Linked DNA regions of Homo sapiens. The protein of the gene in region 1 purifies or fractionates together with the protein of each later gene. This does not show direct contact. Each region holds a gene or a part of one and is shown in the gene's direction. Other genes may lie near its edges.

Region 1 (2,404 bases):
GGTTGGACGAAAGCCTGAGGGGCCGACTCACTGTGGCGGCCACCTTGTTTTGCAGAGGGGGACCTACCTGCCGCAGACGTACATCATCCAGGAGGAGATGGTGGTCACGGAGCATGTCAGTGACAAGGAGGCCCTGGGGTCCTTCATCTACCACCTGTGCAACGGGAAAGACACCTACCGGCTCCGGCGCCGGGCAACGCGGAGGCGTGAGTGGCTGGCTTCACCCACAGTAGCCCCTGTCCCGTGCCCCAGACCACAGTTATCTTCACGCCTAGCCCAGCTGTCAGAGAGCTCAGATAGCAGCAGCAATAACAGCTAGCATTAGCAGAGCACTTCCGTGTGCCGGGCAATGCTGTGTGCTCTTTATGACCTCTTAAGAGTGTAAGTCATTCTCATCCTCATTATTATTTTTGCTGCCCATTTTAAAGATGAGGAAACAGGTGCAGAGAGGTTAACACCCTGGAGGTCACACAGCAGGGAGGTGGCAGACATGGGCAGGCTGACTCCAGCTTTCGAGCTCTCCCCATTTCTCACTGTGCTCTTTGGGTGAATCTGGGTGAATGGTGTCACTTCCTGGCCCTCCTGTGGCTCAGGCTGAGGCTGGTGGTCTTTGTGACTCAGCCAGGATGCAGGGCTCACTGGGGTTTTTCTTTTTCCTCCCAGGGATCAACAAGCGTGGGGCCAAGAACTGCAATGCCATCCGCCACTTCGAGAACACCTTCGTGGTGGAGACGCTCATCTGCGGGGTGGTGTGAGGCCCTCCTCCCCCAGAACCCCCTGCCGTGTTCCTCTTTTCTTCTTTCCGGCTGCTCTCTGGCCCTCCTCCTTCCCCCTGCTTAGCTTGTACTTTGGACGCGTTTCTATAGAGGTGACATGTCTCTCCATTCCTCTCCAACCCTGCCCACCTCCCTGTACCAGAGCTGTGATCTCTCGGTGGGGGGCCCATCTCTGCTGACCTGGGTGTGGCGGAGGGAGAGGCGATGCTGCAAAGTGTTTTCTGTGTCCCACTGTCTTGAAGCTGGGCCTGCCAAAGCCTGGGCCCACAGCTGCACCGGCAGCCCAAGGGGAAGGACCGGTTGGGGGAGCCGGGCATGTGAGGCCCTGGGCAAGGGGATGGGGCTGTGGGGGCGGGGCGGCATGGGCTTCAGAAGTATCTGCACAATTAGAAAAGTCCTCAGAAGCTTTTTCTTGGAGGGTACACTTTCTTCACTGTCCCTATTCCTAGACCTGGGGCTTGAGCTGAGGATGGGACGATGTGCCCAGGGAGGGACCCACCAGAGCACAAGAGAAGGTGGCTACCTGGGGGTGTCCCAGGGACTCTGTCAGTGCCTTCAGCCCACCAGCAGGAGCTTGGAGTTTGGGGAGTGGGGATGAGTCCGTCAAGCACAACTGTTCTCTGAGTGGAACCAAAGAAGCAAGGAGCTAGGACCCCCAGTCCTGCCCCCCAGGAGCACAAGCAGGGTCCCCTCAGTCAAGGCAGTGGGATGGGCGGCTGAGGAACGGGGCAGGCAAGGTCACTGCTCAGTCACGTCCACGGGGGACGAGCCGTGGGTTCTGCTGAGTAGGTGGAGCTCATTGCTTTCTCCAAGCTTGGAACTGTTTTGAAAGATAACACAGAGGGAAAGGGAGAGCCACCTGGTACTTGTCCACCCTGCCTCCTCTGTTCTGAAATTCCATCCCCCTCAGCTTAGGGGAATGCACCTTTTTCCCTTTCCTTCTCACTTTTGCATGTTTTTACTGATCATTCGATATGCTAACCGTTCTCAGCCCTGAGCCTTGGAGAGGAGGGCTGTAACGCCTTCAGTCAGTCTCTGGGGATGAAACTCTTAAATGCTTTGTATATTTTCTCAATTAGATCTCTTTTCAGAAGTGTCTATAGAACAATAAAAATCTTTTACTTCTGACCTTGACTTGAGTGTGGCTGGAGGGGAGATGGGTGTAGGAGGGGTGCTCCGGGCAGGGTCGAGGAGCTGGACCTCGGGAGCAGCAGGCAGGGAGAAGCCTGCAGACCTTGACATCTGGCCCCTAAAGAGCTGGGCATCCTGGATTCAGCCAAGGAGTGTAGGATATCCCCTTCGTAGCACCCTGGATCTGAGCCAGGTAGAGTTCACACTTTCCGGGTGAGGAGGGGAACAGGGCTGGGAGAGCTTACCGACTCGCCCAAGGTCGTGCTGCTTTAAGTGCCTGTAAACCACCCTGTAATGTTCTACCTGGCAGATGACATCATTATTGCATGTCCTTAAGCACAAGGGCGGTGTCCTATTCTCCACCACGTCTGGACAATTTGTAACCATTCCTGGAGGATCTGAAGTGAGGTTTGGTGTGATAATCACAGGGTCACATTCTCCAGAGAATTCTGGAAGCGGCAGGAGAGCTGGCCAGAGCCATGTCTAGGTGGACCCCA
Region 2 (4,108 bases), on another chromosome or scaffold:
GTGCTTGGGCATTGACCAGCCAAAGCTCACATTTAGAAAGCCCTCAGTGCTTCTGTGGTTTCACCTGGGCATCGACGACATTAGGGAAGCCTTTGTGACCACAAGGGCAGGGCTTGTGCCCTGAGTGGCGAGGTGGTGACCTGAGGCCAGTGTGATGTGGTTGGATCTCAGCGTGTACTGAATGCCAGTCTGGCCGGCACACTCGAACGCTAAGAGAATGGTCCAATTTGATGATCTTATTTCTATTTCGATCAGGTTTTGACTTTTTGTAGATGAAAACTACCAGGGAAAAGGGGAAGCAGGTACCCAATAAAGTTTAGAAAGATCCAGTCTGTGAAACCCTTAGAGATGGGCTGAAAGTTAAGTCCACCAACCCTTGGGCTTAATCAGGACGGAAGAGGAGGGGGTGTGGGGGGCAGAGCGTAAAACAAGCCCCAGCCCTACTCCCGGCCCCCCAGCCCAGTCTTCCCAATCCCAGAGGCCCCGGCGGCCTGTGCTCCTCACCACCCTGGTCAGGGGAATAGAAGGAAATGCAATTTCCGCCTGTCTGCCCGACTTCCAAAAACTGCCTCCTCCTGCCCAGGCCTCTCCCACCACCACCTTCCCTCCAAAGATAACCGTGTCCATGCCATCCGTGGCATCATCTCGAGTTTTCATTTTTGGATGAAGTGACATTTAGCTTTAACAAGACATTTCCAAAGCGCCTAGTCTCCTCCAAAATGCTAACTTTAAAAGTTGGGCATTGTAGGCGAAAAATCCCAAAAAAAAAAAAAGACAAAAAAAAAAGGCTGGCGAGAGAAAGACATTTGGCTATGCATAAATGTGCACTTCCCCCATGCCCCCGTTCTTAAACTCTTAAGATGCCTTTGAGTTGCTTTTCATGAATCCTTTTAGTTTACCCGATAATGTTAAGAAAGCATTAGTCTACGTTACTGTAATTTCTGTAGTGTTTACGCTTTAATTTCTACCACAAAATATGCTATATGCTATGTATCAAGCTTTCTGTAATCAGAAAGAAAAGGTGCCTTATATCCCAATGTCACGGCTACATCCCTATGGAAATTAATCAGAAGCACAGTGTGTACGGAAGCATTGGGACTTCTGCTGGTGAAACAAGAGACCATTCAGCAAGACACATTGAAGTGGCACGGAGCTGCTTTTGTTTTATAATTCTTTTTTCCCCCCTTTTCCTTCTTCTTTTTTATTATTTTATTATTTTTTTTGTACTTTGCTTTAAACGGAAAGCACTTAAATAGATGACTATGTGTAAAAGCTCTGTGCAATTGAAATCATTTTTCTTCATTTTAAAAAAATAACGTATTGCACACCAAATGAACTCAAAGTAAGCTTTAGACCAGGACGATTCAGGTTATGAATGAGTTTGTTCACTGTAGTTCCGTTTGTTCATGAACCGAAGGGAAAACAGGCCTCCCCGACTCCCTCCAGTCTCCCAGCCTGCCTCTTGGTGACCACTGTGCTGGGCGTGCAGGGCCCGCGGGCTCTGGCCGGAGCCGCTGGCCTGACGAGGCAGGATAGGGAGTATCCGTGATTCAGAAGCTGAGACCCTTCCCCAGTGTCTGAGGCCACAGCCATCCCTTCCAGCACTTAATCTTGTCTTGTTGAAATGGACTGACTGCTACTGACCTGCCGGCGTGCGTGAGGGTGATTATAAAAGGATGTTTCCTTGAGAAAAAAAAAATTATTTCTATCCTCTTCTATTTATTATTAGGTTAATCATTTAAGTACTTATCAGGAGTGTATTGTTATTTTGTGTTTTGTTGTCATAAATGCTTTTTGCTGTCACTCTAGTGGTTACTATCCTCTGCCTTCCTCTCCTCCCCTACTCCCCCAGAGAACCAAGGCGTCTGGGGGATTGACTGGGGGGCAGAGGGGGTTTCCCCAGCAAAATCAAACACCTGTCTCCAGAGTAGCCACTCAAAAACTGGTGGTCTCTATGTGTCTAACTTTTTAAATGAGAGTGTTTATGAACAAAAAAATTTACCAACGTGTGAGGGAGTTGCTGAGTTGAAGAATGCTCGCTTGAGGAGCTTCAGAGGAATCTTAGCAAAGCCAAGTTCAGTTCCCCAAAGCCTCCTAGAGCCTCTGGTAAGACTTCTGGGTTCATGAAGTTTCGGCGAGCCGTGGTCAGAGAGGGCGCGGTGGCCTGGCCAAGACTTTACCTCCAAGCGAGAGAGTGATTTCTTGCAAGGCCCGCATGGGTTGATACGTTTTGGTTGGTTTTTTGTTGTTGTTTTTCTTGCGTACAAAGTTGGTCAAAACCATCTTTCAAAGCAACAGTGTTTTGTAGTACCAGGCTGTGGCTTGAGGGCTCACCTAGGAGATCATAGGCAGAGGGCCCCTTTCCCCTATAGGTGGTTCAACGTGGAGGAAGGTTGGGTGTGGAGATTGCTTGCTGTGGCCCCAAGCTCAGCCAGCAGGACACCCAGTTGTTGCCAATCAGGTGTGAAGGTGAGGCGCCCTGCCTTGATCCCATGGGCCCAGCAGAAGGAAACTTACCCCAGGCCAAGGCAAGGGCCCTGCTCACCCCAAGGTAGGCTGGGAAGAGCATCTCTTTCCATATCATCACCTCCCCTTCTCCAAGATTGCCGGGGGCCCTGATTTTGTTCTCTCTTTGAAAGAAACCCTCCACCGAAACAATGGTCCCCATCTCCCCAGAAGCCTTTTTTTTTTTCATTTTTCTCTAATTAGTCTATGCATTTCTCTCTCTCAAACCATCTTCTGCCTCTTCCCTTGAGAAAACGGGCATCTCACGTACCCCCATCTGAGACCTCTTGGAAAAAAAAAATCCCGTGTATTCTGGAGATGTGAGAATTCACCCAAAATTCTTAAAACATTGGAGAATAGCTTGTTATAAAATAAAAGTGGGGGTAAAAAGAAGGTGGTTTTCCCCACATCCCTTTGCATTGAATAAGAGACCTAGTTCTTTGCGTTTGTGCAATAACTCTTTGCTGCTTGCCTTGAGAGCGGGTAGCACCACGCTCCTGTCCAGACTACTAACAGCACAAGACGCACTCACAGGGTGGCGGAATCTTCCGGAAAACTCTCTATAAGCTCAGCTCCCCCCACCCCACCCCCACTCTAGCGTTTTGTCACGTCTTACATTTTAGCAGTATTTTATATTTTCTGTAACGCACCAAGTCTTAGATCTTTCTAGAGCTTGTTTGTTCATCCTCACAATCACAGATTTTTTTCTCCAATCCTCACAGAGACCCAATTGACCAAAAAAGAAAAAAGGAAAAAAAAAAAGTCGTCTTTTTTTTTTTTTTTTGTACAAATCGCTTTGAGATGCCTCTGGTGTGTTGCTGTGTGACATCTCTCTGGTAACATTTTATTTCTTGCTATTTGTTTTTCTACATTAAGAGTCAAAGTTGACCTGGCTGGCGTGGGGGTGGGGGAGGCACCCGTCGGCCCCTTGGTGTTGTCCCTCTGTCTTTGGTTAGCCATACGATGTTTGTTCTCAGCACTGTACAACGGTCCCTATATAATACGGAGAAGCAATATCACTGTATGAGACTCACACCATGTATTATTATTCACTAGCACCCTAGGTGTGATAATTGAAGTAAATATCTTTTATACAAACACAAGAATGTGTGGGTTGTTTTTATTTAAAGTGCTCTGGCCTGAGGACGAGCAGCAAACACTGTCATTCGAGGTCCAAAGGGCACCTCAAGAATCGCCGTTCCCGAGGTCGTCCCCTTTGCACCTGTCCGCAGGTCCTCGGGCGTGTGGCTTCCGGGCACACAGAAAACCGTGTGGTTCTAGGATACATGGGGATCTCGGGCACTGCTCTGTCAATCTGCATCTGGTTCACAGGAAGGGCTTCGCCAGGGCCTGCGTTCCTACTTGCTGTTGTCACCAGCACTGTTTGCCTACCCTTGAACCAAGCCCTTACCCTCCCTGGCGTCCGCTTCCTTTTCTGTAAAATGGAGACACCATCTCCTGTCATATAGGCTTGCTGTGGGGAACCAGGAATGGTGGCCAGTGCTGGTGCGGCACTGGGCTGGTGGTGGCAGCCCCAATCGATGGCACTTGGGCGACCAGGACTACGGCCAGTCTCCTCTGCCGTGTGGCCTGCAGCTGGTCA
Region 3 (3,500 bases), on another chromosome or scaffold:
ATTGAGTTCCCATCCCAGTGCTGTTCTTGGTAACTTTGGCTGCCAGACCATGGGCCACAGCACCTGAGACAGTCACACAGGCCCTTTTGCCTCTGCAGCTCTCTGTCTGAACAGTCATAGTCCCAGACACCTCCTCACTCCATCCTCACCTGTAACCTCACCTTAGCGCCTGTCTGCCGCTGCAAAGATCTGTGTGGCAGCAAAGATGTGGGAGGTGGAAGTAGGGAGTGAAGCTGTCTGCAGGCGCAGAAGGGTTTCTTTAGAGGCTGGGCTGCCTCCTGCTGGTGCTTGGTGCACCTGCCATTGGTGCCCAGGCCTCACTAGGCTGGGCCCTGACCAGAGCTCTCGAGCCCCAGCTGCTCCTCTCCAGTTTCTGTAGCGTGGTTTGGGTTGGTCCAATGAGGTGATATGACATATTCAAGGTCACACAGCAAGGAAGGGGCAGAGCTGGACCAGAGCCTGGAATCTCTGCCCGCTCCTTGTCTTCTGACTGGGCTGTGCTGCTTGGGCCCAGGGTTGTCCCAGGTCCTGCTTCGAGGAGGCGGCCAGGTCCTGCTCGGCTGGACACTCCATTACTTCCCGTTTTTCCTGATGGGCCGGGTCCTCTACTTCCACCACTACTTCCCAGCCATGCTCTTCTCAAGCATGTTGACAGGTCAGTGCCACCCACCTGGACTTGGGAGACAGAGCAGGTGGAGGGCGGGCCACTGTTGGGCAGCAGTGCTGGGAGTGACTCTGCTCCTTGACGGGAGGCCACTGTGGGGCAGCAGTGCTGGGAGTGACTCTCTGCTCCTTGACTTGGAGTGCCTCCTTCTTCTGTAGCCCAGAAGTCACCCCCTGCCTGGCTGACTCCAGGTTTCTCTCCTCTCCTCTAGGCATTCTGTGGGACACCCTCCTGCGGCTCTGTGCCTGGGGCTTGGCCTCATGGCCCCTGGCGAGGGGCATACATGTGGCGGGAATCCTGAGCCTGCTCCTGGGAACTGCCTACAGGTGAGCATCTCTGCACCTCACATGCCCTCCCAGTGTGGGCTCAGCAGTGCCTCAGCCCTGATGCATTCGAGAATCCCCTGCGGTGCTTTTAACACCACCAGTGCCCATGCCTGGAGGTTCTGCGTCACCCAAGCCCAGGTGGGGCCGTGGTTTCCAGAGTCCCCCAGGTGATCCTAATGTGCAGCCAGGTAGGAGAAGCAGGGCTTAACTCTGCCTTTTCCCCTTCTGCCGGTGGTTCAGCTTTTGTGCCATCCCAGCGCACCTGGAAGGGTACCCCTCTAGTGACAGTGACTCTGTGCCAGAACAGCTCTCAGAGGGGGAGTGTGGGAATGGGGGGCAGGGAACCCCTCTTTAGTCACCATGGCCCCCTGTCAGAACAGCTCTCCGGGTGAGGGAGGGGGGAACCGGGGGGCAATGGGGGACAGGGCACCCCTCTTTAGTCACTGTGGCCCCCTGCCGGAAGAGCTCTCGACGGGTGGGGTGGGAAGGGTGGGAATGGGAAGTGTGTGGCTGAGTGGCTGAAAGGGAGAGTTGTTTGGAAGGCTCCCCGCTTCCCCAGTCCCTGGCCTTGGTGCTGGGCCTGTGGCCTGTGAGCACATGCCTGCCTAAGAGGGTTACATTCACATGTTGACAAACACCCCTGGCCAAATAGCCCATGACAAGACCCCTAGAAGGGTTGCCCTCCTGGGCCTCTTGGGAAGAGCCCTTTCCATGATTGTCATTGAGTCAGCATCTACTAAGCTCTCCAGCTACAGTGTGCCCCAGTGGGACTCAGACAGACAAGGCCGTGAAAGAGAACCGGGCTTGGCGATGGGGAATTTCTCTGGAGCTCCAGCAGGAGGAATGGAATTCAAAGCCCCTCAGCTGAGGCACTGGGGGTGCCAACTGCCTCCTACTGGTTCTCTCTCACAGCTTCTACCTCTTCCACCCTCTGGCTTACGGGATGGTTGGTCCCCTGGCCCAGGACCCCCAAAGTCCAATGGCAGGACTAAGGTGGCTGGACTCATGGGACTTTTGAGGCCACTGCAAAGATTCCAGCCTGGGTCCAGGAACTTCCCAGGAGAGCCAGCTGGGAAGCAGTACTGGACCATCCGGCCATGAGGAAGCTGCCTAAGGAGCCCGAAGAATTCTGCTGCTCACCAGGACCCAGCTCTGGGAGTGCAGCTGGAATGGAACCCAGCATTGGAGAGAGCCGGGAGAGAGCCGCAGCTCCGTCCACAGCACCACGGAGAGGACAGCGCCTCTTGGGCTGCTCCCTCGTGCACAGCGCAGGGGAGGATGGGTGCCAGAGGGTGGGAGTGGGTGCGCGTGTGTGTATGTGAGGGCATGTTGTCCATATCCCTGTGGAATACAGACCGTGTAACTGGACAGCTGAGTGTCATAAACTCTAAAATAGTCCAGGCTATAGTAATATTTTCTGGTATTTTTTTCTGTTGGATTTCTTTGGTTTTGGTTTGTAAGATCCATCAAAAATTCTCAGACCTCTGAGAGGGCCTTGAGGGCAGAGAATACTGACCTCACCTTGGGATGTCACCAAAGGCAGAGCAGATGGGACTGTCAAAGTTGTGCTGCCCTCCCTCCCACAAACAAATGAATCCAGCGTGGAGGAAGGCGCGCCGCCCCGAGCTGGAGGGCCTGGCTCCCACCATGCCCCCCAGTGGCTGCAGGTAGCTGGACTTCCTGCCTGTGACGCACAGAGAGCAGCGGACTCCGGAGCGTCAGCCTGCCTTAGCCCTTGGTTCCTCGTTTTTTGGGATTGTCACACTGTGACACTCGGGAGGAACGATGTCCTATCCTGGGCTGCTCAGTGTTCCCAGGCCCTGTGTGCCAGAGGCCAGGTCTCTCCAAGTGCATCTAGCCTGGCCTGGAGGGCAAGGCAGATGCATTCTCCTGGCTGCTGGGAGAGCCCATGGGAACCTTGCTTAGCGCCCAAGGTAGATGAGAGACAGGGCAGGGAATCTGCGTGGTGCTGGGATGTGGGGACTCTGGCCTCTCCAGACTAATGTTCCTGTCACCTGCTGAGCTTTCCCAGTGTCACTTCTGCAGTCCTCCTCTGCTCACCCCTCCCTCACTCCGTGGGCAATTCCCTTTCTCTCTGTCACTGCTTCAGCAGTGAAGACCCATGGCACCTAGAAATGCATGCCAGCTTCCTGCGTCTACCACTCTGCAGCTCAAACAAGAAGCTCAGAGCTGCCCCTTCCACTTCCTCCCCAAAAGGGATGAAGAAAACCCTGTGGTAGAACCAAACCACCCAAGGCCAGCCCTTAAGCCTGCCTCCACCTTCCTGGTGCATGACAAAATATTTCTTTTGTCTCAGAGGACTTTGATGCTTCAATATTTAATGATGAATCCGCCACACTCCATTTTCCCTCCTCTGAAGCTCCCAACAACTCTGACAGGGTCAGATCTCTTTAAAGCATCTTCAGGAGGCGGTTGCCACGGAGACTGGATATTGGTCCCAGGGACAGGCTGTGCTACCTACTGGGTGGTGGGGAGGGAAGCTTCTGGCC
Region 4 (2,279 bases), 6.9 Mb from region 1:
TCAGTTGGGACTTGAGTTTTTTTTTTTTTTCATGTGTCTTGCTGAAGATTAAGGGGAAATGTTACAGTGTTGGGACTTCCTTTCATGGCAGAATCTACAATTTGAGCGACTTCAGTAGTATCTCTTAGTCTACGCTTTTCATACACAAAACACTGTGGAACCACAAGCCATTACCAAGCAAAACTCTTTCACTGGAAACAAGGGGGCAGTCTAGAAGTAAAAGTGACCTTAAGAAGACTCTTTACAGGCAACAAATGAAGCTTTTCTAAGGGATTTTTGCATCAGTTCAGTCATAAGAATACTTTTTTCCAGGGTAATTAGGCAATAGCTTCACTGAAAATGACAGCTTTTCATTGCATTATTTAATCCTTATATTTGGAATTGAAGTCGTTAACTTCTTTTAAAGAATGTACTATTAGAAAAATTAAAAATGAAATGTTGAGAGACTTCAGCAATGTGGTTCTAATTTTTTTCCACTGAGAAAGAAGATCTTTAATTTCATATTAATGGTTCTGTATATTTTGGGTCATCTTTTTATTTTTTAAGAATATCAAGTCAATTCATTTTTCTTTCCCTATTTAAAAAAAAAGGTGTTTTCACAGAATGAGTGCACTTAAAAAGTGAAGTGAAGGAGGAGGTAACAGTAGAGACGATGGCAATATCATCAAGGACAAAAGTAAAAACGTTTAGCTACCTGCTGATTTTTAGTGACTGTTCATATATGTTGTATTTCAAGTATGGCTGGTGAAGCCAGTCAGCTTTTCGGGACGTTAGCAAGTGGAAACTGAGTCAGTATCATCCAAAACCATATCTAGTCTTAACACATGGAGAATGCTGGAGTGAGGGTTGTGAGTTCAGGGTATATAATCAAGAAAACACTCCCAGCATAATGCTAGGGGTCACCAGTGTCCATCCCCCAGAACTGTATGGATCTAGGATATACACAGCTGCGTTGCATTAAGAAAGAGATGAAATCTCTATTAAAATACACAAGATTTTTGTATCTCCTTGTGCAGAGGATATTTGCCACTGCCCATTGGGAAGCAGACAAGTTATAGGGGGCTGGGGGCCAACACTGGCAAGTAGGAAACCACGGGTCGGACAGGTGAGCAAAATGTGCTGGCAGGTGGGCACCACTGGGAGACCCACACTGCACACCCGGGCACCGTATGAACAGGAAAGAGGAAGGAAGCTGGACGAAGCCCCTCAGGGACCCTGTGCTGACCATGCTGGGCCCACCGGCAAAAGGGAGATATTCAGTTCCTTGTCTCATCCTTAAGGTTTCTTCCACAACATCTGAATACAAGCATGTTTAACTGGGAAAATGTCTATGTCATGCGTGAATAACACCAGCAGCAAACACTCACACATCACGCAGACACGGCCGGCAGCATGCTGACGCTTTTAGGTATTTTTCACTCATGCAATTTTCACATATTTTCACTCATTTCATTTGCACGGAAATTCTATGAGGTAGATGCTGTTATCAAATCCACATTACAGATGAGGGACCCAGGGTCCAGGAAGGTGAACTGGCAGAAGTCTCCCAGCTGGTAGAACAGGGCTGCAAGGCATCGATTCCCAGGTGTCTCACAGCCCTGAGAAGATGGCGTTTTCCCTATCAGTGGCTCTGAGGAAGTCAAGCCTTCAGTCTCTACCTCTCCCACCAATTCTTTTGGAAACAGCAAACCAATGTTACACACACTTCCTAATCCAGAGGAAGCTAGAACACGATTTTTAAATTTATTTAGTAAAATAAAACTTTTTTTGCAGATGTAACGAATGGAAATTGGTTGCTGGCTTCTTTCATCCCTGCAACCTAGCGTTTCTCAGCCTCAGCACGACGGTCGTCTGGAGCTGGGTCGTTCTTGGTGGCTGGGGTGGCTGTCCCCTGCACCGTGGGATGTTGAGCAGCAACACTGAACTCTACCAACTCATTGCCAGTAGACCCCACTCCCGGTCATGACACACAAAAACATCACCAGACATTGCCAAATGTCCACTGCGGGGGTGAGGGGCGTGTAAAAGCGCCTCCCATTGAGAACCACTGCTGTAACCTGAATTAGAAGATTTGGAAAAGAAATGGTTGAAAACCCAGACCAGGATCCCTGTTGTATGTTTCCTATGAATGATTTTCATTTTTAGAAATGAAATAACATCTAGGACATAGAGCAAAACACTCAAAACACATCATAAATGGATAACATAAATAGATAAAAATCCAATGCAGTTCAGAATTACAATCAAATGTTATTTTCTCTTGTGTTTTAGAATTCCTC
Region 5 (3,500 bases), on another chromosome or scaffold:
TATCTCCAGCCAGCCTCCCCTTCTGAGTTCCAGATCAGTATTTCCATCAGCCACCAAATTTCTCCAGCTAGACAGTCTGTAAGTAAGCCAGATTCAACATTTCCAAAACTGAATTTAATACGTGTCCTCCAGAATTTTCTCCTCTATTGGCTACCATTGTTTAATGGCAGTATTATTATCACACAAACATGAAAGCCAGGAATTTGTCCCCATGTTTTCAACCTCACAGCCACTCTCCAAATTCTCTTGGCTCTCCTCCCATCCATGCAACTCCTGCCACCCAGTCAGTCCCTCATCTTATGTCTGTATGTAACTTTTAAACTGGATTTTCTTTTCTTATCTCTCCAACCCATTCTCTTCATTTTCACTAATGATATCTTTCTAAGACACTTATATGTTTCCAATTACTGCTTTGTTTCAAATGTTAGTGGCTCCCCATCTCAGGTAGGGTAAAGTGCCAATTTCTTGGCATGTCATAAAAAGGTACATTCTACCTATCCAATCTTTTCTTTACTGTATGCTTTCCTGAACACAAATACACATTCACACACACACACCACACACATGCCCACACATGTACACACTCTAAAGCCATCTATATACACCATTCTTTGTTATGACTACACCTGATCATACCATATTTAGTGTGAAAATATTTTCCAAATACTCCCTTTGCCTTCATTGCATTGTTGCTTTCACCCCTTTTCACTCATCTCTTTGCAACTGACCATTATCCAATGCTAGAAGGGTCAATCCCAAGCAAAATTATAAAGTAGAGAACTTTTACTTTTGCAACAAAAAGGAAAGCTTGAGGTAACCTACCTTTGCTGGGTCCCACCCTAAACCACCTCTCTGGTCTCATCCTCAGCCCCTTAATGGGACTTAGGCCGCCCTCTGATAAAGTAACTTTGCTCCCCTATGGCTTAGCAGTTATACCTGCCCAACCTCAGCTAAGCTTTGCTCTCTTAATACTAGGTCCTGAGCCACTGTTTGACTTAAATTTATGGACTGGGGTTTAGGATTCAGTATTTACAATGGCTCATATATTTCTGATGTATGGTCTGGTTTGGAAGTGATTGCTTAAATATCATCACTGCCTCCCCACTTTCCTAAGATTAAAATTCCAGTGTTACCTACCCCTTACCACCTTGTGGGATGATCACCAAGACAGGTAGATTTCAACATCAAGAGTTAGTGGCTGTGAGCGGCTGTGTCAGTTAAATTCCTTCCGAAGTGGATGATGACTACTCCCTGTCTTCATGTGCTGACAGCCCTGGAGATATTAAAAGGTAGAAGCTTGTTAATGTAAAGAGATGAGCTTCTCATGATGTAATTTTAGACATTCAGCAAAATAAAGACACATGTTCAGTCAATGTGTATAAAGTCAAGAATTTCAGGAAGAATGGGGAAAATATTTGGGGCCAAAAGTGTCCAGGCATCACATAAATTCTACCACTAAAGCCATAAGTCTTGACTACCAACACTGCTCAGCTTGGGATATTAGTAAAAGATTTAGCACAGCATAAAACAAGAGAAACCATGAAAGATCACCGCTCTGATTGGCAAGTGAAAGAAATGGAAGGTTGGTGGAGTTCTTTTTTTCCAGTTGTTCAGTGACCAATCATTTACCAGCAGAACATACAGAAGAGTGGCTCCCTACAGGGGAGAATCCTAGCACTGCAAATCATGAGACAATAGACTCTGTGTATGACAGTGATTCCTATGCCCCTTCAGGTGATCCATAGAGGCTTTATTGATCTGGCTACAGTGAATTTCATAAAACTAATACTTGATAATATTCTTATAAGGTATCTACTTTATGTAAGGCTGTGTGTTAGGCTCAAGGTGGAATCAGAGAAAACTTAAAACATGGCTGAGAGAGGTTGGAGTTTATTTGGAAAAAAATCCAAACATGGGGAAAGGAAATTGTCTCAGCCCTGAAGCATACTTAACCAATTTCAGCCCCTTGTCATCTTCCTTTCTAGCAGAAGTCCATTTATTGAGTTACCATCCTCTTCTGCATAGCTAAAAAATTGAGGTGATGCTGAAGGGTGATTAGGCTGGTCCCAGGCATCTGGGCTGTGTCTGATTTAGCCATGGGCATGTAATGCAAGGTTGACCAATGAGATCTGCTGGGTGACTTATGGGAAAAGAATTTTCATTCCTAAGAGAGATATTTGTTAAAGAAAATATTGTCAAGTTTATATGTGAAATTTGGAACAACTACAGCCATCTTGCAACTGCGATGTCAACTAGCTTAAGGATAAAGCTAGTATATTGGAGTTAGCCTTATGGAAAGAAATGGACTTTGATGTTGTCTTTGAACTTCTGAATTATTGGAATTTAAGACTATAGTATGTCTTGGTGTCTTTAAAATTTTCATATAATTTAAAACTTGGTTATATCATTTTCTATAACTTAGAGAGCTGTAACATCAGTTTCCATAGCATAATAGATGTCATGTGTTCACAATTAATGAGTGGTACAGATAACATGTTGAATTCAGAGGATGGAGAGATATCATTGTGATACATTGAAGTGTCTAGCCTCCTGAGATGTCTTCATGGAAACAGGTAAGAATCATTACAATTTAGATCTGCCATGAAGAACCTCAGAGATCCTGGAGTACAGTTTCTACCTTTTAAAATGGATGTAAGTGATACTAGAAAAGCAAGCAACATAACTAGCAATAGGACTCGTCTCCTAGTTCCTGGGGCAGATGTTTAGGTTCTTGAATAGAATACTGACGCAATGAAAACAGAAGGTCCTTATGCCCACAATGTGGTATTCAAGTTGTTCCCAGAGAGTGAAAGCTGAGTTGCAGCCACCAGACCTTGAAGGGCCTTGTAAGTCATGATATAGAGCAGGGGTTTTATCCTGAGAACAGTAGAAAGGTCTTGAAGGGCCTTGAGCAGGGGAGTGACATGATCAGATGAGGAGAGTGGGTTGGATGGAGGCCAGGTGGAAAGCACCAAGATCATTTAAGAAAGAATATGTTTGGGTTTTAGTTTTAGTTTAGGAGACCAGTTGTGAGATGATGGTGGTAAAAACTCAGATAGTGGCAGTAGGGAAAGAGACTGGAGGATTTATTGGAAAGGCATTAAAGAAGAAGAGTGAACAGGATTTGATGATTGATTTACTATGGAGGTGGAGAGAGAGGGAGAAGATAAGGCTGATGCTTAGGTTTCTGACATGGACAAGTCAGTTGATTTTGTGCCATTCACTGAGATAAGCAGTGCTGAAGGAGAGCAAGTTGGAGGAAAAAGATGATCAGTTCAGGTCAACAGATTGAGTTTGAGACATCTGGATGTACACCTGGATGTATATGTCTAATTAGCAAATAGTTATATGTAGTGGCGTTAGGAACAGGCAGGAAAGTAAGATGGGGATAGAGATTTAGGAGTCATTGGCACCTAGAGAATAACTGAAGATAGGACATTAACAAGATGAGTCAGGCAAAGGGACTAGAAGAGGGCTTTGGCCATGGCTCAAGGAACTGC
Region 6 (3,500 bases), on another chromosome or scaffold:
CATCTATCCATCCATCCTCCGTCCATTCATCCATCATCCATCCATCCATTCACCCATCATCCATCCATCCATCATCCATCCATTCATCCATCATCCATCCATCCATCCATTCACCCATCATCCATTCATCCAGCCATCATCCGTCTATCCATCCATCATCCATTTATTCATCCATCATCCATCCATCCATCCATCATTCTTCATCCTTCCATGCATCATCCATTCATCCATCCATCATCTACCCATGCATCCATCCATCATCCATCCGTCTATTCATCCATCCATTCATCCATCCATCATCTATCCATCCATCCCATTATCCATTCACCCATCCATCCCTTCATTATCCATCCATCCATCCACATATCCATCTGTCATTAATCCCTCCACTGTCTATCCATCCATTCATCCAGACAGCCAGCCATTCATCTATCCATCCCCCATCCATCCATCCATCCTTCATCCATTCACCGTTTTTCTATCCATCCATTCATCCATCCATCCATCTGTCATCCATCATCCATCCTTCTGTCCATCATCCCCCTACCTGTCCTTCCCTCTTTTATCTCTCTGTCTACCCATTCTTCCATTCATTCAACAGAATCAGAGAACTCCAATTGAGTCTGGTGCCTTGATTGTGAATCTAGGCATGTGGCAGGCAGACCCCTGTCCCATACAGGGCATTTATGATGAACAGTGTCATCAGGACCCCTGCTCACATGTGCTCACTCCCCATGGAGAAGCCCTTGCCACTTGTGCCCCTTCATTTGGGAGAGTGAGCAGGGGACATAGCAGGGATGATGTGCAAGGCCACCAGCCCACCTGCAGGGTCAGAGCTGATCCCCTCTGTGGGGTGCTTCTGCAGGGTTGCCAGGGTAATTAGCATGTTAAAATGAACACGGGAGGGAGTGGATGCCCCAGTCCCAAGTCACCTACTGGCCACAGGCCTGGAACTAGAATGTCCCTCCTTGGTTCTGTGCCTCCCGAGTGCTGGAGAGCAGAGGGGTTGTCTGAGCAGTAGTCCAGGAAGGGGAGAAAGAGCCCTGAGTGTTGAAGATTCGAGTGCGCTTTCAGCAGCGCAGGAGCAGGCTTTGTGCACGGCTTCAGCTTTTGTCCTTTATTCTAGATGAGCAGTTCTCAAAACTTGTGGTCTTGGGAATCCTCTACACTCTAATTTACGTGGCGTTTTTAATGTTTATTTTCTTGCATATAACATTAGGATGGGCCAGGCACAGTGGCTCACGCCTGTAATCCCAGCACTTTGGCAGGCTGAGGCAGGCAGATCACCTGAGGTCAGGAGTTCAAGACCAGCCTGGCCAACATGGTGAAACCCTGTCTCTACTAAAAATACAAAAATTAGCTGGGCGCGATGGTGGGTGCCTGTAATCCCAGATGCTCGGGAGGCTGAGGCAGGAGAGTCGCTTGAACCCAGGAGGCGGAGGTTGCAGTAAGCTGAAATCACACCATTGCACTCCATCCTGGGCAACAACAGCAAAACTCTGTAAAAAAAACCAACCAACCAACCAAACAAACACAAAAACACATTTATCCTAATGTTTTTTATATATCCTTAGTCCCAATTGCTTTCTTTTCTATGCCTTTTTATTTCATTTTTTAAAAGGATTTTTTTCAAAATAATTATAGACACAGGAAGTTGCAAAAGCAGTACCAAGAATTTCTCGACTCTTAAAAATTATTGAAGGCCTTGGCTGGGTGCGGTGGCTCACGCTTGTAATCCTAGCACTTTGGGAGGCTGAAGTGGGCAGATCTCTTGAGGTCAGGAGTTTGAGACCAGCCTGGCCAACCAGCCTAGTTTCTTTAGTAGAGAAACCCCACATGCCTGTAGTCCCAGCCACTCGGGAGGCTGAGGCAGGAGAATCACTTGAACCCGGAAGGCAGAGGTTACAGTGAGCCAAGATTGCACCTCTGCACTCCAGTCTGGATGACAGAGAGTCCATCTCAAAAAAATAAAAATTACTGAAGGCCTTAGAGAGCTTTTGTGGATTACATCTGTTGATATTTATCACATTAGAAATAAAAGCTGAAATGTTTTAAATGAACAGTTCATGTTAACATAAGTAACATTACACTTATGAAAAATAACTATTTTCTCAAACAAAAAATTTTAGTTAAGAATCTTATTGGCTTCCATTTTTGCAAATCTCTGTAATGTCTGGCTTGACAGAAAACAGATGGACTCTTGTAGCGGTTTTCTGCATTCACTTGTTTTTTCGTTTGTTTGTTTGTTTTTCTTTTTTAGCCTCCCAGGGCTTCCTCGCTATGTGATGCCTTGTTTTATTGAAGTTTATGAAGAAAACTGGGCAACACAGTGAGATCCCATCTCTACAAAAAATAAAAAACTTAGCCGGGCGTGGTAGCACATGCCCGTAGTCCCAGCTACTCAAGAGGCTGAGGTGGGAGGATTGCTTGAACCCAGGAGGTTGAGGCTGCAGTGAGCTAGGATCACACCACTGCACTCCAGTCTGGATGACAGAGAAAGACCCTGTCTCAAAAAAACAAAAAAAAAGTTTTCACTCAGTGTCTCCCTGAAAAGTCATTGGGAACCCCTGGGGGTCTACATTTCAAGAACCATTCCTCTGGATCGGGGTTTCTCAGTCTTGGCCTTGTTCCCGTGTGGCTGGCCGTCCTGTGCACGGGAGGATTTTAGCAGTATCCCCATAGCCTTTACCCACTAGATGCCAGAATTCCACCCCCCACCTGGTAGTTGTGGCAACCAAAAATATCTCCAGATACTTCCAAATGCCTCCCCTACTCCCACCCCCAACAGGGACAAAACCGTCTCTGGTTGGGAACTACTGCTGTGAGATCTTAGGTGACAACTAAGTTTCATCTTGTTGGGGCTGATTTAGAAGCCACATCCAGTTTCACAGAACGGTGCATCAGGATTGATTAGCAGGCTGGCCGCGGTGGCTTGTGCCTGTAATCCCAGCACTTTGGGAGGCCGAGGCAGCTGGATCACCTGAGGTCAGGGGTTCAAGACCAACCTGGCCAACATGGTGAAACCCCGTCTCTACCAAAAATACAAAAATTAGCAAGCCATGGTGGCATGCGCCTGTAATCCCAGCTACTCAAGAGGCTGAGGCAGGGGAGTTGCTTGAACCTGGGAGACGGAGGTTGCAGTGAGTTGAGACTGAGCCACTGCACTCCAACCTGGGCAACAGAGCAAGACTTCGACTCAAAAAAAAAAAAAAAAAGAGAGCTATTGATTAGCAATGTCTGCCATGAGTGCAGGAGGGAGAGTAACAGTGCAGTGTGCTGGGATTGATGAATGATGTCTACTACAGATGCAGAAGAAGAAGCACCAGGTACAGCGGGGGTGGCCCCGTATAGGTCTCAGCTAGCTGAGGCCCCTGGGGCTCTGTATGCCAGATGGCCCCTGTCCTTGCCTACTTCTTCCTTCTGGGCTCCTCTTCCCGTAGGTGTTCATTGAGGATGTCAGCAGGGAGTTTGTGGAGGAGTTCATCTGGCCGGCCATCCAG
Region 7 (3,500 bases), on another chromosome or scaffold:
AGAAATGGGTCTGCACGGATGCTGGACTCAGGTTTTGGGCTGAGGAGAACACAGCCAGAAAGAAGGCTGCTCCCACCCCCGCCGGCTTGCTGGTCACCTTGGGACAGGCTGGCCTTCTCTGGGCCTGAGCCTGACCTCAGAGCTGATGCCAAGGGATCAGTTCTCTGACATCCTCTGGTGGAGGGCAACCACAGAGGGCAGCTGCTCATCAGGCACTGTCTCCACAGGGACCACGGCAAAGTCGGGCAGTGCCCCCATCCTCAAGTGCCCCACACAGTTCCCGCTCATCCTCTGGCATCCTTATGCGCGTCACTACTACTTCTGCATGATGACAGAAGCCGAGCAGGACAAGTGGCAGGCTGTGCTGCAGGACTGCATCCGGCACTGCAACAATGGTGAGTGGCCTGTGGGTGCAGGGTCGGTGGGAGGGAGGGGCAGGACCTGGGTTATTGCTGAATGGTGACACCTAGTGGCTGACTATGGTGTGGCAACCCTGCTCTACAGGCTGTTCTAATTTCCCTTCTGGGGTTATAAGAAACCATGTAATACCACCCTTAGTCTTCTTTCTTGATGAAAACAGTTTTGTGCTGCTCAGGAAAAAAGTAGGAAATTATTCACAGAGGGGTGTGGTTGTTGAGCCCTTGGACCCTGAGTCACAAAGTCACAATCCTGATTCTGCCATTTTCCAGCTACGTGACCTTAGGGAACTGACTTACCTCTTGGAGGCTCTGTAAAGTGGGGATAATGCCTTGTGTGTCTTAGGGGGGTTATGAGGATTTAGAGTCTACCTCATGCTTGGTAAAGATTTTTTTTTTAATTTTATATATATATATATATATATATATATATATATATATATATATATATATATATATATATATTTTTTTTTTTTTTTTTTTTTTTTAAAACCACCAACCTGCAGGGTGATTTGGAAACTTCACTGCCTCCCTCAGGGCCTCATTGCTCTCATCTGTAAACTTATGGGGTGACTCTTCCAGCTCACTCATTTATTCAACAAACATTTTTAGTGTCTACTCTGAGGAGGCCCAGATTTAGGCACTGGGTGTGCAACAAGGGAGCAAGAAACATTCCCTGCCCTCCTACAATTGGCAGTCTGGTAGGGGAGACAGATGATAGACAGATGAGGATGCCAGCACGATGGCTCACAGCTGTGCTGGGTGCTGGGTGGAGCCAACCTGGGAGCCTGAGGGTGTGTGTGTGTTGGGGGAGGGGTCGATCAGGGCAGGCTCCCTTGAGGAGGTTATGGTTCAGCTTCAGCAGAGACCTGAAGGAGAAGTCCCAGACCTGAAGGAGGAGATGCCAGAAGTCCCAGGGCCCCTCATATCCTGCATAGAGGAGAGGGGAGGAGTGTTCCAGGCAGAGGTAGGCAGTCAGCATGAAGGGAGACCCACAGGTGGTAGGGGTAGGCCCGGAGGAGGAACTGCACGAGGCCCTGAAGCAGGGAGGGGGTGACCTGAAATGGGGCTGGAGGGGGGCCTCTGGGGTCAGGTCTGGAAAAGCCTTGAAGGCCTCTAAGGAATTTGAACAGAAAGGCTGAGGATGGTCTTCCAAGGTGAGGGTGGGTCCCTGGGGGTCTTTCTGCCCCTAGGGAAGGAACAACCCAGTCCTGGACACTGAACTGCTTCCAGGTGATCTGGCCTGAGGGAAGCTCCTGCCCCCGCCCCACCCTTGGGCGCAGTGCCACATGGTGCAGAGGTGGAAGGTTGCAGGGGACGGAGTGGGCGCCAATGGCCTCTGGGCTGCTGCCGTGGGACTCAGCTCACCCCACCCCTCCTGCTCGCCTCTCCAGAGCCACCTCTGCCCTGTCTGGAATCTGCCAAGCAGGAGGAACCAGGTCTTCAATCAGGCCAGCCCCTGCCACCTGGGCCCAGCTGCCCACAAAGGGCCTCCTGTTCCCAGGTCCCGGGGACTGTGGGCTGGGACTGGGTGGAGGCACTCAAGGCTCTGGCTGCCTGGCCCAGGGCCCTCCCGCCTCCCCAGCCCCTGGCCTGGTGCCATCTCTCCAGGTTTCCAAGGCTAACGGCTGACCTGGCCTGGCAGGGTGGGTGACCTGCGCCAGATAGGGAAGGGGTGGGCACAGAACAAGGTGGGGAAGGGCCACCTCAGTCCCCCATGTGTGCAGTGGGGATGATGATAAACTTGAGCTTGAGAGATGATTGGGAAGAGCTGGTCTGGGTGGGGCACTTGGCCGTGGGCCTGGCACGCACAGTGAGCACTCAGTGGGGAGGCCATGGGGGAGTTCTTGGTTCTAAGGTGCAGTGGACCAGAGGGAGGCCCAGGAGAGCTGCTGGGCCAGGGAATGAAGGGGTGTCCTGTGCCAGGAAGGTGTCCTGCCGGGTGGCCCCTTCTCCCCAGGGCGGGAGCTGACGAGGCTGGTTTCAGGCCTTCCTTCCACCCTGCGGACTGTGAGAAAGTTCTCTGCTTCCTCCGTCTTGGAGGCTGGGCTTGGAATTTGTGAAGCCTGGAATTGCTCACTCCGGGGGCTGCCAGGAAGTGGGGGGTGGGGGGAAGGAGGCCAACTGGGCGGACACCAGCGGTCCCAGGGACCCCTTCACATCCTGCATTCCTGGAGCAGCTGGGGGTGGCAGGAGGCAGCTGGGGCACTGGCTGTGCCGGGTCCTCAGTGTTGGCCTGGGGTGCAGAGGTCAAGGCTTCTTCCTGTCTGACCGTGGTCCCCCTCTGTCTGCTGCCTGGGAGTGAGGAATGCAGTTTCCTTTCTTGGAAGGTCTCCAGGTCTGGCTAGAGTCAGCTGGTCCTGGGTTCAAGCCCCGCTCTGCCATCCACTAGCTGAGTAGCCTCGAGCAGTAACTGCCTCTCTGAGCCTCAGTTCTTTCCCTGGGAAAAGTAGGGCACAGTGAGCTGAGGATTCAACGAGCTGATGTGTGTGCAGCCTCAGCCAGGGCTGGGGCCTCAGTTTCCCAAGACTGCCATAACAAATACCACAGACCGGGCAGCTACACAGCAGAAATATGTTCTCTCCCAGCTGGAGGTCTGAGTCGAGGGCAAGGTGTCAGCAGGGCTGGTTTCTCCGAGACCTCTCTCCTTGGCTGGTGGCCGGCCGCCTTCTCCCTGAGTCCTCACAGGGTCATGCCTCTGTGTGCCTGTGTTTTCTCTTCTTTCAAGAAGAAATGTACTTTTCTTTTTTTCTTTTTCTTTTTTCTTCTTTTTTGAGACAGAGGCTTGCTCTGTCACCCAGGCTGGAGTGCAGTGGCGCAATCTCGGCTCACTGCAACCTCCGCCTCCCAGGTTCAAGTGATTCTCCTGCCTCAGCCTCCCGAGTAGCTGGGACTACAGGCGTGTGCCACCACACCTGGCTAATTTTTTGTAGCCAGAATGGTCTTGATCTCCTGATCTCGTGATTCTGCCGCCTCGGCCTCCCAAAGTGCTGGGATTACAGGCGTGAGTCACTGTGCCCGGCCAAAATGTACTATTCTTTTAAGGGCACTAGTTGTATTGGATTTGGTCCCATCCTCATCCCC

The links.
Region 2: the proteins of ITM2C (region 1) and CUX1 purify together in Homo sapiens (affinity purification with mass spectrometry; one large-scale study listed by BioGRID and IntAct). This does not show direct contact.
Region 3: the proteins of ITM2C (region 1) and POMT2 purify together in Homo sapiens (co-immunoprecipitation; one large-scale study listed by IntAct). This does not show direct contact.
Region 4: the proteins of ITM2C (region 1) and LRRFIP1 purify together in Homo sapiens (co-immunoprecipitation; one large-scale study listed by IntAct). This does not show direct contact.
Region 5: the proteins of ITM2C (region 1) and ITGA2 purify together in Homo sapiens (co-immunoprecipitation; one large-scale study listed by IntAct). This does not show direct contact.
Region 6: the proteins of ITM2C (region 1) and ASS1 purify together in Homo sapiens (co-immunoprecipitation; one large-scale study listed by IntAct). This does not show direct contact.
Region 7: the proteins of ITM2C (region 1) and NIBAN2 purify together in Homo sapiens (co-immunoprecipitation; one large-scale study listed by IntAct). This does not show direct contact.

Annotation. Positions count from the first base shown.
Region 1 is NC_000002.12:230,877,345-230,879,748, forward strand, and holds the end of ITM2C (integral membrane protein 2C), read left to right. Parts: intron 1-55; coding exon 56-206; intron 207-663; coding exon 664-755; 3' UTR 756-1,904; downstream 1,905-2,404. UniProt on the Homo sapiens protein: Negative regulator of amyloid-beta peptide production. May inhibit the processing of APP by blocking its access to alpha- and beta-secretase.
Region 2 is NC_000007.14:102,254,626-102,258,733, forward strand, and holds the end of CUX1 (Homeobox protein cut-like 1), read left to right. Parts: 3' UTR 1-3,608; downstream 3,609-4,108. UniProt on the Homo sapiens protein: May be involved in intra-Golgi retrograde transport.
Region 3 is NC_000014.9:77,275,884-77,279,383, reverse strand, and holds part of POMT2 (protein O-mannosyl-transferase 2), read left to right. Parts: intron 1-514; coding exon 515-655; intron 656-875; coding exon 876-990; intron 991-1,902; coding exon 1,903-2,008; 3' UTR 2,009-3,500. UniProt on the Homo sapiens protein: Transfers mannosyl residues to the hydroxyl group of serine or threonine residues. Coexpression of both POMT1 and POMT2 is necessary for enzyme activity, expression of either POMT1 or POMT2 alone is insufficient.
Region 4 is NC_000002.12:237,779,865-237,782,143, forward strand, and holds the end of LRRFIP1 (leucine-rich repeat flightless-interacting protein 1), read left to right. Parts: 3' UTR 1-1,779; downstream 1,780-2,279.
Region 5 is NC_000005.10:52,992,352-52,995,851, forward strand, and holds part of ITGA2 (integrin alpha-2 precursor), read left to right. Parts: intron 1-3,500. UniProt on the Homo sapiens protein: Integrin alpha-2/beta-1 is a receptor for laminin, collagen, collagen C-propeptides, fibronectin and E-cadherin. It recognizes the proline-hydroxylated sequence G-F-P-G-E-R in collagen.
Region 6 is NC_000009.12:130,454,961-130,458,460, forward strand, and holds part of ASS1 (argininosuccinate synthase), read left to right. Parts: intron 1-3,440; coding exon 3,441-3,500. UniProt on the Homo sapiens protein: One of the enzymes of the urea cycle, the metabolic pathway transforming neurotoxic amonia produced by protein catabolism into inocuous urea in the liver of ureotelic animals.
Region 7 is NC_000009.12:127,520,574-127,524,073, reverse strand, and holds part of NIBAN2 (protein Niban 2), read left to right. Parts: intron 1-227; coding exon 228-395; intron 396-3,500. UniProt on the Homo sapiens protein: May play a role in apoptosis suppression. May promote melanoma cell invasion in vitro.